3 linked regions of the Homo sapiens genome follow. The protein of the gene in region 3 purifies or fractionates together with the protein of the main gene of each other region. This does not show direct contact. Each region holds a gene or a part of one and is shown on either strand. Other genes may lie near its edges. The genes, in order: NXF1, AFG2A and NXT2.

Region 1 (3,751 bases), on a different chromosome or scaffold from region 3:
AGAACAGCCCGAGGATGGTGAAGAAGCGGCCCCGATCATGCTCAAAGAGCAGCACATCCCGTTGCAGCGTCGTGCCTTGCAGGGGCCGGCAGGTGAGCAGGGGCCGCAGCACGGCTAGCAGCCCCGTGGGCCATCGCCTCCAAGGCGCCGCCATGGCCAGCCGACTTCCGGGGTGGGGCTTCCTGCCGCAGAGCCGCCTTCCGCCCTCCCTGGGCGCCCCCGCTAGAGGGCCCGCCCCCCTCGCTCAGGGCTGGGAGGAGACAACCAATCCAGCACGCAGAACACGAAATACAACATCACTCTTTATATTAAAAAGTGCAGAACACGAAATACAACATCACTCTTTATATTAAAAAGTAAGGAGGTCCTGGGGTTAAGTACACAAAGCACCTAAGTCCTTCGGGTAGTTTAGTGTCAGTTCTACAAAGTAAGCTTTGGCTTCCTGGCACCAGTGAGGCTCAATCTTCTGAAGTCTTCCAGAAGGCAGGCGAGGAGAGGGATCAGGCAGCCCTCCCTCCCTCGGTCACAGTCACGGGGCGGCCTCGGGCCAGACAGGAGGAGATGACAGACGACAACCAGACGGTAATATCCAAGGACTATTTACAGGGGGGACTGCTTCTGAGGCATGACTACGATCACTTCATGAATGCCACTTCTGGGATCTCGCCCTTGGCCTGGAGAAAAATGAAGGTCAGTAGAGGTAGGCCTACCCTCGCCACTCAGCAACCCCACTCAGCTAACCTGACCTCCTGGAGGCCCAGAGATCCTAGTCTTTTTGCCACTGTATTTCCAGACCTTACCTTGAGATGAGTGAAGGCCTGGGCAGATCTGGTGTAGTCCCAGTTGTTGTCCTGAAGGCACCTGGAGTGGAAGAACAGGCAGCTCTGTAAGAACTCTGACTCGTAAATGCCAGCTGAAAGTCCACTCCATAAAAGCACCCAAGTTTGCCAACAAATATGTACATTCTTATACATCCTTGCACTATTTATACAAATGAGACATTAGTAAAAGTCCAGATGTTCTACCAATGGCTTCTCAAAGATAAGGAATATTAAATAGCTGTCAAGAAGCTCAAGATAGTTTTTACAGTGGTAGGGAAAGATGTTCATGGTGTAAGTAAAGAAACTAAGTTGCAGAACAGTATATGAAAAGGAACTTCCATTTTACCTTTAAAGTTTTTTATGTTAATTTATACACAGGCAAATTTTTTATAGACTATCAGGTTTGTGTTTTTCTGTTTGCTTTTTTTTTTTTTTTGAGACCGAGTCTTGCTCTGTCACCAGGCTGGAGTGCAGTGGCGTGATCTCGGCTCACTGCAACCTCCGCCTTCCAGGTTCAAGCAATTCTCCTGCCTCAGCCTCCCGAGTAGTTGGGACTACAGGCGTGGAACGCCAAGCCCCGCTAATTTTTGTATTTTTAGTAGAGACGAGATTTCACCATGTTGTCCAGGATGGTCTTGATCTCTTGACCTCGTGATCTGGCCGCCTCAGCCTCCCAAAGTGCTGGGATTACAGGTGTGAGCCACCTCTCCCAGCCAACTATTAGGTTTTTTTAAGCAGCCAAAAGTTTTGCCTTTTAAAATTTCAGGAGCCCAGGCACAGTAACTCACACCTATAACCGCAGCACTTTGGGAGGCCTAGGTGGGCAACATGGTGAAACCCCATCTCTGCAAAGAAATACAAAAAAATTAGCCAGGTGCTGTGGCCTATGCCTGTAGTCCCAGCTACTCAGGTGGCTGAGGTGGGAGAATCACCTGAGCCCTAGCAGTTGAGGCTGCAGTGAACTGTGATCACACCACTGTACTCCAGCCTGGGCATCAGAGTGAGACCCTGTCTCAAAACAAACAAGCAAATAAAAATTTGGCTGGGTGCAGTGCCTCATGCCTGTAATCCCAGCACTTTGGGAGGCCGAGGTAGGCAGATCACAAGGTCAGGAGTTCGAGACCAGCCTGGCCAACATGATGAAAGCCCGTCTCTACTAAAAAAAAAAAAAAAAAAAAAAAATACAAAAATTAGCCAGGCATGGTGGTGTGTGCCTGTAATCCCAGCTACTCGGGAGGCTGAGATTGGAGAATTGCTTGAACCCGGGAGGCAGAGGTTACAATGAGCCAAGATCGCACCACTGCACTCCAGCCTGGGCAACATAGCAAGACTCCACCTCCAAAAAAAAAAAATAATAAAATAAAATAAGGTGGCACATGCCTATAGGCCCAGCTACTCTGGAGGCTGAGGTGGGAGGACAGCTTGTGCCCAGGAATTAGAGGCTACAGTGAGTTATGATCACCACTATACTCCAGCCTGGATGACAGCGCAAGAACTTGTCTCCAAAAAAAAAACAAAAAAACTGTCAGGAGCCCTCATTATTTACTACTAGCCCTACTTCAGTGCATCCCCATCCTACACATGCCCCGCACTCACTTCTGGGACCACTCGAGGTTCATGCCAGACTGGGTAGAGAATGCTTGCAACATTTCCTGCTGCTCTGGAGAGAGGGTGGGCACCGGGCTGGAGGAAGGCGTGGGTGCAGGCATAGCGAAGGCTCTTTGGATCTCTTCAGAACTGGCATTCCGCACAAATAGCTCATCATTTACAATACATAGCCTTGAGGACAAAGAGCACTTAAAAAGCTAGACAGAGATAACATCATCCTCCCAACATCATTCCTATTCTCTGATTCTTTCAATATCCACAAGGTCCCCCTCCCACTCTTAGCTATTGTTACCTTTTATCATTTATCCCCTCCCATGGAATCAATGTTTGGAAGGATTATCTACTAAACACACTAGGGTTCTCCCAACGCATGGACTTTAGCTCTTTTAATTCATCCTCACAACAAACTTAGGAAATGAATATTGTTATATGAATTTTCAGATGAGGCAGCAGCCTACTTGCTAGAAGTGGTGGAGCCAGGATGAAAACCCAGACGGTACAATTCCAGAGCCAAGCTATTAACTGGCTCTTAACTACTATGTGAGCTTTCTCTGATTTCCTGTTGCCTTTCTGAAATCACCCCAAAGACTGACTCTACCCTCCAATTACCACACTGTTGGCCATGGATTAGGACTGGTATCCAATGCGAAAAGCAGAATACTTACCCTGAATTGCTAGCAGGAACAGCAATGAATGTCCGGGTGAAGGCTCGCAAAGAATCCCGGGACTTTCCGTCCACTGCAATAAGAACAGCAACAACACCTTAGGGTCACTAGTGCTTTATGTTTACAAACAGCTTCTTGAATCATGGTCTTTGATATAAAGAATCCTAGCAAGTCAGAGAGGAATGATTAAGTATATAAGGGTATAAGGGAAGCACAGGTGGGGTGAAGGGTCAGGTCAGAAAGGACAATAGTAATAACTACGGCCGGGCACAGTGTCTCATGCGTATAATCCCAGCACTTTGGGAGGCTGAGGTGGGCAGATCACGAGGTCAAGAGATCGAGACCATCCTGTCCAACATGGCGAAACCCCTTCTCTACTAAAAATACAAAAATTAGCTGGGCGTGGTAGTGCGCACCTGTAGTCCCAGCTACTCGGGAGGCTGAAGCAGGAGAACCACTTGAACCCAGGAGACGGAGGTTGCAGTGAGCCAAGATTGCGCCACTGCACTCCAGCCTGGTGATAGAGTGTGACTCCATCTCAAAAAAAAGTAATAACTACTAATCCACTGATAGCATCTGTATGCCAGGCCCCAGGCCAAGCACTTTGTAAGTCACTTCAGTTTACTTCCTATAGCACCACTATGAGACGGCTATTAC
Region 2 (3,751 bases), on a different chromosome or scaffold from region 3:
CATAGATAATAGTGCTCATATGTGTGCATGTGTGTATGTATGTGTTAGAAGTTAATGTTTTACAAAGCAGTATTTACCCTTTCTATATTCAGTGTACCCTGCATTTCTTATTCTATTAACAAAGTGCTGAATGAGGCTGACTGAAATGATTTCATTACCCTTGTGTTTTGAAGAACATTGATTTAGGCCACTAAGGCACCAGATTCCAAATGATATTTTCATGGCTATATGTTTCTGAAAAATGCCCATCATTTCAAAATTGTATACATTATTTATTTTAAGGTTGCAGGTGGATTATTCTTTTGATTAAGTCTATATTATAACCATATACATGTAATTTTACATCACAGTTTAGTTTCTGGTGTACCTAATGCTGATTTCTGTTCCCTTCTTATCCTTTTACAGTGACAAAGATATGGAAATTAATGAAGAAGAACTGACTGGTTGTATCCTGAGAAAACTAGGTGAGACAAATATTTTAAATTGTTTTCTTAAGTTTTAAGCTGCAAGGCATCAGCAAATAAAGTGTCTTTGAGGGCTTATATATGCATAGTAGTTTTCTTCAAAATAGCTTTGAGAATATTCCCCTCAATGAATGAATATACTTTTAAGATAGGGATGTGCTACTTTTCCTGGTTAATTGGCAGTTGAGCAGTGGAAAGAATATATGACTTGTCTGTGGAAAGAGTCAGTGGTAGAATTGAGACTTTTAACCTTTGCATTCTTGCCCTTTCCAGTGACAGATGCTATCTTGGAGTGTTGGTTTGGGTGTGCCATTTTCATTTAGTTTATTATTGAATATGGAATGCCTGGCTATTTGTTGATGTGATTGATAGAATCTGAGATCTACTGAGTGTGGAGGATTTCAGAGAATCATTTCCTTCTGTCTCCAGATGGTGTTATAGGGGAATATTAGGTCCTCAATTTTTTATGACAATTATTTTATTAATACTCTGTCTTTGATTTAGTCTTTTCAGATAATAGATGAAATATATTGCTATTTAAACATTAAACTGGTAAAAAAAATTATGCTAACATGTATATTTAATATACTGTTTTCTAGATGGCAAGATTGTTTTACCAGGCAACTTTCTGTATTGTACATTCTATGGACGACCGTACAAGCTGCAAGTATTGCGAGTGAAAGGGGCAGATGGCATGATATTGGGAGGGCCTCAGAGTGACTCTGACACTGATGCCCAAAGAATGGCCTTTGAACAGTCCAGCATGGAAACCAGTAGCCTGGAGTTATCCTTACAGCTAAGCCAGTTAGATCTGGAGGATACCCAGATCCCAACATCAAGAAGTACTCCTTATAAACCAATTGATGACAGAATTACAAATAAAGCCAGTGATGTTTTGCTGGATGTTACACAGAGCCCTGGAGATGGCAGTGGACTTATGCTAGAGGAAGTCACAGGTCTTAAATGTAATTTTGAATCTGCCAGAGAAGGAAATGAGCAACTTACTGAAGAAGAGAGACTGCTAAAGTTCAGCATAGGAGCAAAGTGCAATACTGATACTTTTTATTTTATTTCTTCAACAACAAGAGTCAATTTTACAGAGATTGATAAAAATTCAAAAGAGCAAGACAACCAATTCAAAGTAACTTATGACATGATAGGAGGATTAAGTAGCCAGCTGAAAGCAATTAGAGAAATAATTGAATTGCCCCTCAAACAGCCTGAGCTTTTCAAGAGTTATGGTATGATGTCTTCAGTTTATTGCACCCAAAAATGTTAAATTCAAATTAAAAGACAGTTGACACTTATGTAATGATTGCTCATCCTCTTTTCCTGTTTTTATTTTCTGAGTAGTAGGTATGGTAGAAGATTTCAGTTGCTTTGGGAGATGCCAGTTAAATGGGCCATTTGCTATGCTTTGGTATTTTTAGGTTGTAATGTGAATTAGTGACAGCCTTGTCTCTTCTAATAGCATATTTCCACAATTACCTGTATTGGATCTAGAATAAGTATCTTGTCATGCTGGGTCATCTGTAATGACTGAAGGGATAAACCATTCAAATACATTAGGTAAAACTTCTTAGGAAATGTAACTGTGTACCCATCTCTTTGCACTGAAGCAGGTAATTACGGGAATGGCTTGACTCAGGAAACTCAGGGCTTCTGCTGCATTGTTATTGCCAAGATCCTTTGCATATATTTGCTGTGTCTGATCTCTCTGCTTTTTTCCTTTCTCATAAATCTTATATATACATACATGTATGTATATATATGTATGTGTAAAATGAACCCTTAGATTGGCATTTTGCTCATACTTATGTACCTTTTATACTAGCAAACGTATGTACTCTTCAAGATGGTTAGTTGGAAAAAAACTGGGATTGGTGGCTTGTCTACCTGTGTTGTCTGTGCTTGGTTTTTCGATCATTGATCTGTGTTGTGTGGGATGGGGCGTTGCAACAATGTGGGTGTCCAGTTTTTTTTTTTTTTAACCAACATGCTTCCTCTGTTCTGTGGTCTACAGAGAGAGAAAGTCATTGCTGGGTATCAGTGTTTGGGCTAGTTAGTACATCTTTCTGGAGGGGGAGAAAAAACTCTTGACTCTTTTTGTGACGCAAGGTAAAGTTAAATTTTATAACTCATGTTTGAACTTGTATGACAACATTTATAAGAAACCTAGTAATGGTGAATCTAGTGTTTTCTACTTTTTCTTCCAGGAATTCCTGCCCCTAGAGGAGTGTTACTTTATGGTCCTCCAGGTACTGGAAAAACAATGATCGCCAGGGCTGTTGCTAATGAAGTTGGAGCCTATGTTTCTGTAATTAATGGTCCTGAAATTATAAGCAAGTAAGTACATGATTTAATAGAGTAAACTTACTATTAAATATATTTCTAAAATGTGGTTTTTAAAAATGATTGTGTAGTATTCTGTGTGATATTTTGTACACTGAAATATTTTGCTTCTTAATAAAAATTGTTTGGAAAATTCTTTTTGAAAGTAATTTTAAGTATTATAGAAATATTGAAAATTTAGGTTAGCTTTTATAGACAAAGCTTTAAAAACAATAAGAAATGGTCTTTAAATGTATTTTATTTGTTACAGATTCTATGGTGAGACTGAAGCAAAGTTACGTCAGATATTTGCTGAAGCCACTCTACGGTACTCTTTATTTTTAAATGTTTTGGAATTAATAATCAAGGCTGTATTAGTCAAAGTGAGATACTAGCACCTTATACAAAGCATAAACAGTAGTACAAAAATTATAGTGATAGTGGTAGAAGTAGATTATAGATCTAATGAAATTCTATTTCTATCTAATCTTTAAAAGTTTGATAAATATTATTAAATTACATAAAGTAGAAGAATTAAGACATAGTGTTTGATAAGTCATGTGACCTTGTTTGAGCATAGAAATCCATGACTTTCTTTAGGTGCTTAGGTGTTTCTAATATGCTTAGCTTTTCTAGTAGACTGTATTATTGTATGTAGCTCTTTATACTAGAACTTTGTTATGTTATACTTTGCTTCAAAGGGACAAATCTTTTGCCCATTAAATAATGACTCTGGCTGGGTGTGGTGGCTCATGCCTGTAATACCATCACTTTGGGAGGCCAAGGCAGGAGGATTGCTTGACCCCAGGAGTTTGAGACCAGCCTGGGCAACATAGTGGGACCCTGTCTGTTTAAAAATAAAAATAATTGGCTGGGTGCGGTGGCTCACGCCTGTAATCCCAGCACTTTGGGAGACCGAGGCAGGCAGATCACCTGAGGTCAGGAGTTTGAGACCA
Region 3 (3,751 bases):
ATTCTGCACATGTATCCCAGAACTTAAAGTATATATATATATAAAATCCTATGCTTAATAAATGGGTTTTATATAAAAAATAGGTTTTTAGAGATAGGGTATTAACTTTTGCAGCTGCAGGACAGAAGTAGTTCTCCAAAGCACAGTTCTATGCTGGTAAGAGACCTAGGCAAGACTCACTTGACCACATACTGACATAATTACGTAAAAGATATGGTGCAGGGATAAGTTGCAATGAAAAAGCTGATGAAATCTCGGTCTGTTGAGGACTTAATATTATCCATGCTACATGCATACTTTTTGTGGGTGTAAGCTATACTTTTGAGCCATGATCAGAAATTATCTATAAATATATGAAATAAAAGGGGCGAATCAGGAAATATTCCCCGTAATGACCCACCCCTTCATTAGCACTAATAATACCTTAACCATATTGGTTAATTGATGGAACTAAGAAAAGGAAACATATTTAAGAAAATATGCTGGGCCTAATGTTAAGTGCGGTATTTTAATTAATTCATACTTACCAACCTGAAAATAAAATGAGGTTAAGGGAAAATGGCAACTTGCTCCAGGTCAAAGAACTAGGTAAAAGTAAACCTGGGATATGATTCCAGAGCCCATGTTCCCACTAATGCCATACCAATCCTTCCCTGAGCAATTTGCTTTTAAAGAGTAAATCCACAGTTACCACTTATGCAAGTCAGATGAAACGCTGGCTCCAGACACAACCTGGTATTTAATAAAGAGTAGTAGTCTATAAAGAGTAGTAGAGTCTATAACACTCACCCGTCTTCTTTTATCCATTGTCTCATAGTAAATATTGACAAACTCCTCAGCAGCTCTACATGCCTGATCTACATAAGTTTTAAAATCCTACAAGAAAAATTCCAGAAGTATAGATTACCAACCTTTTCAACCCCTCACAAACACAAAACCACTGACAGAAGCTGATGATTTATTTCAACCACTATGTAGCTCTATATACAGTCCACATTCTTTCATATAAATTCAGACATTTTAAAGGCCGGACTCTGAAGTTTGCAATTTTAAAATTTTTCACTAATTTTAAGTGCATGTCTTTAGGACATAATCTTCTCAATGAATCTGAGTCTTTTTCAGTCTCCACATATAAATTTATAATCTTTTCTTGGCAACTAAGCACTTTAGACTTTCAATATTTTACAAACATTCACGGCAATGAAAATGACACCACCTGAACCTTAGAAAAGGAGAGAGAGCGGCAAAAACTGCCACTGAATAAGCTAGGAAATTGTTTTCTGTTTTCAAGTGAGGTGTTAGAGCCAAACTCCAAAGTTGATGAATGGGAAACACACACACACACACACACACACACACACGAAAGTAGTTCAACTACTTGAAAAACCGGCAGCTCCACTTAGGAAACTTTCCCACATTGCGTAAATATTCACTGCTGTTTGCCTAAGAACTGTGACACCGAAGAAAGCAACGCTGTTGGCGTTCGTGCCGGAGAATTAAGGAATACCTTCCTTCTCATTCATGTACGGGGCCCAGTCTATTACTAAATTAAGAACAATGAATCGCCAGTTTCTTTGTCAGGTGACTGAAAGTGATTTTTAGAGAGGAAGATAATCGAGAGAAAGAAACTGCAAGCCATAAACAACAAACCCCAACATCCCCGCCTCTCGCTATTTCCCAGCTCAGGGTCCTTTCCGGGATCAGAAAGCGACTGCTAACCAGGCTGGGGGTGGGGCCGGCAGGGCGGGCAGCAAAGCGTGGGCCCCGCCCCGCAGTGCAGAGAGCCGGGACGTGATTCGTCACCTATCCACGTGAGCAGCAGCCAGACCGCCCCGGAATCCCTCCTCTCAGCCACTGGAGTCCGGCGCCCAGCCGTCCTGCCACGGCCCAGGCACTCACCAGAGACGTGGCCATCTGGGACCTTGTAGCAGTGTGTTCTGGCAGTGTCGGCGTCACTACCTCCTCACGTGTCCGGTCCGCAGGGCTGCGGAATGATCAATACTTATGAAGAGAGCGAAACCCGCCAAACGCACAAAATTTTCCACCCTCCCATTCTCTCCCGGAAGTAGCTCGGTCCGTCGTTAAAAGCACACCGATGTTCCAACCTTAAGTTCCACTTCCCTTCAGTTCCTGAAGATCCCTCCCATCCACCTTATCTACTTGTTTGATACTTAGTTTAAAATTTAAAAGCCACTTTGCTTTTGTAAACATGATACTCAACAGGAAAGTCCCCTACTTTTCTAACGACAAGCCTGGGGACAAGCAAAAATGAAAGTGTTCAATTACAGGGACTTTTTTGCCCCAGGAGGCGGAGCCAAAGCCCTCTGAAGACCAATTAGAAATGCGAGGAGACCTACTATTCCGTAGCCTATAGGATAAGTGGGCAGAGCTTGGGGAAAGGCGTGCGTGACTAGTGAACAATTTAGCATTCTGGAACGTTCTGGAAGGATCATCCTCACTGAATTACTACGTTTTGGCAGTATGCCTAAAATTACTATTTCATTTTAACCCAGCCACATTGAACAGGAAAAGTTCATCTGGTTTCTCCATTCTGGCATTTTAAAATGTCTCACGGACACCAACAAAAATTAAGTTTACAGTGCTATTCACCATCTTTTAAGGGCTATTTATTCTGCAAGGTATTCTAACAATAACTAAAATGTCGAGTGCTGACTATATGTAAGGTGCTTTTCTAATCAGTTTTACATATATTCACTTATTATAACAATGCTGAGGTAATTGCTATTATTTTATCATCTTCATTTTACAGCTAAGACTGTAAAATCTGCCTACGGTCACAAACTAGTTGAGATTCAAACTCAAGCAATATAACTGTCATGGCAATGTGGCTTTGCTCCCCAACACCCCTTAAAAACCTCTCATCCCAAAGCCGCCAATGACTTCTGATTTAAATGGCAAATTAATTAGATGTCGTAGTTTTACCTTGAGTGGCTGGTGTGTGGCCCCTCATAATAGTTACTTCTTCTTTGGTATCCTTCTCTGTCTCCCTGAGACCAGTGGCTTCTGTATTTTCTCATACTTTTAATCTTTCTCTTTATCTGGCTCTTTTCTCTTCAAGGTAGGACTAACGGAAGCTTCTTCTCAGCCAGCCAGCTTCCGTTTTCCGTTAACCTCTGACTGGCGTCACTTCCGGTGCATCCCCCCTTTTAAAGCCTCCCTTCTTCAGGGTGATCTAAATTGCTACTCGTATGCTAATGAATCTCAACAACCTATCCCAAGCCCCCACCCCTTATCTGAGCTCCAATTACACATAATAATTTTGCTAAACATGAACGTGACTGCACTATAGGCTTCTCAAACTTGTACGTCCAAAATTTAAACTCATTATTTCCTCCGCACTTCCAAACTTTTATATTCTCCCAGTCACCTATCTTGAATTCTCGGAATCTTTATTTTTTTGGTTCCGCTCTCCTCCTCATCATAATTCATTCAATAAATATTTATCAAGTATTCACTATGTGCCAAAGATTGTGCAAGGCTCTGTATATAGAGTGGTGAATAAAATAGGCATGTTTCGAATCCTTGTGAGGCTCAAAGTGTAATGAGAGTGCTAGACAATAAACATAACATTGAGTTACAAAGAAATACTAAGTAACTTGCTTAGTTCTGACCATTCCCTATAGCAACCCTTCTCCCTCTTCCCCTCCCCTCCCCTCCTCCTCCTCCTCCTCCTCTTCTTCTTTTTTTTAGAGACAGAGTCTCACTCTGTGGCCCAGGCTGGAGTGCAGTG

Evidence for each region.
Region 1: the proteins of NXT2 (region 3) and NXF1 purify together in Homo sapiens (co-immunoprecipitation; 6 studies listed by BioGRID and IntAct, with this or other methods). This does not show direct contact.
Region 2: the proteins of NXT2 (region 3) and AFG2A purify together in Homo sapiens (co-immunoprecipitation; 2 studies listed by IntAct, with this or other methods). This does not show direct contact.

What each region holds. Positions count from the first base shown.
Region 1 is NC_000011.10:62,791,841-62,795,591, forward strand, and holds the end of NXF1 (nuclear RNA export factor 1), read right to left. Parts: intron 3,168-3,751; coding exon 3,095-3,167; intron 2,601-3,094; coding exon 2,418-2,600; intron 932-2,417; exon of another isoform or gene 862-931; coding exon 801-861; intron 675-800; coding exon 636-674; 3' UTR 290-635; downstream 1-289. Other genes in the region: TMEM223 (transmembrane protein 223), read right to left, coding at 1-154.
Region 2 is NC_000004.12:122,933,034-122,936,784, forward strand, and holds part of AFG2A (ATPase family gene 2 protein homolog A), read left to right. Parts: intron 1-405; coding exon 406-464; intron 465-1,063; coding exon 1,064-1,705; intron 1,706-2,680; coding exon 2,681-2,810; intron 2,811-3,066; coding exon 3,067-3,123; intron 3,124-3,751. UniProt on the Homo sapiens protein: ATP-dependent chaperone part of the 55LCC heterohexameric ATPase complex which is chromatin-associated and promotes replisome proteostasis to maintain replication fork progression and genome stability.
Region 3 is NC_000023.11:109,535,170-109,538,920, reverse strand, and holds the start of NXT2 (NTF2-related export protein 2), read right to left. Parts: upstream 2,078-3,751; 5' UTR 1,985-2,077; coding exon of another isoform or gene 1,915-1,984; coding exon 1,900-1,914; intron 1,717-1,899; exon of another isoform or gene 1,520-1,716; coding exon of another isoform or gene 1,508-1,519; exon of another isoform or gene 1,217-1,507; intron 877-1,216; coding exon 790-876; intron 1-789. UniProt on the Homo sapiens protein: Regulator of protein export for NES-containing proteins. Also plays a role in mRNA nuclear export.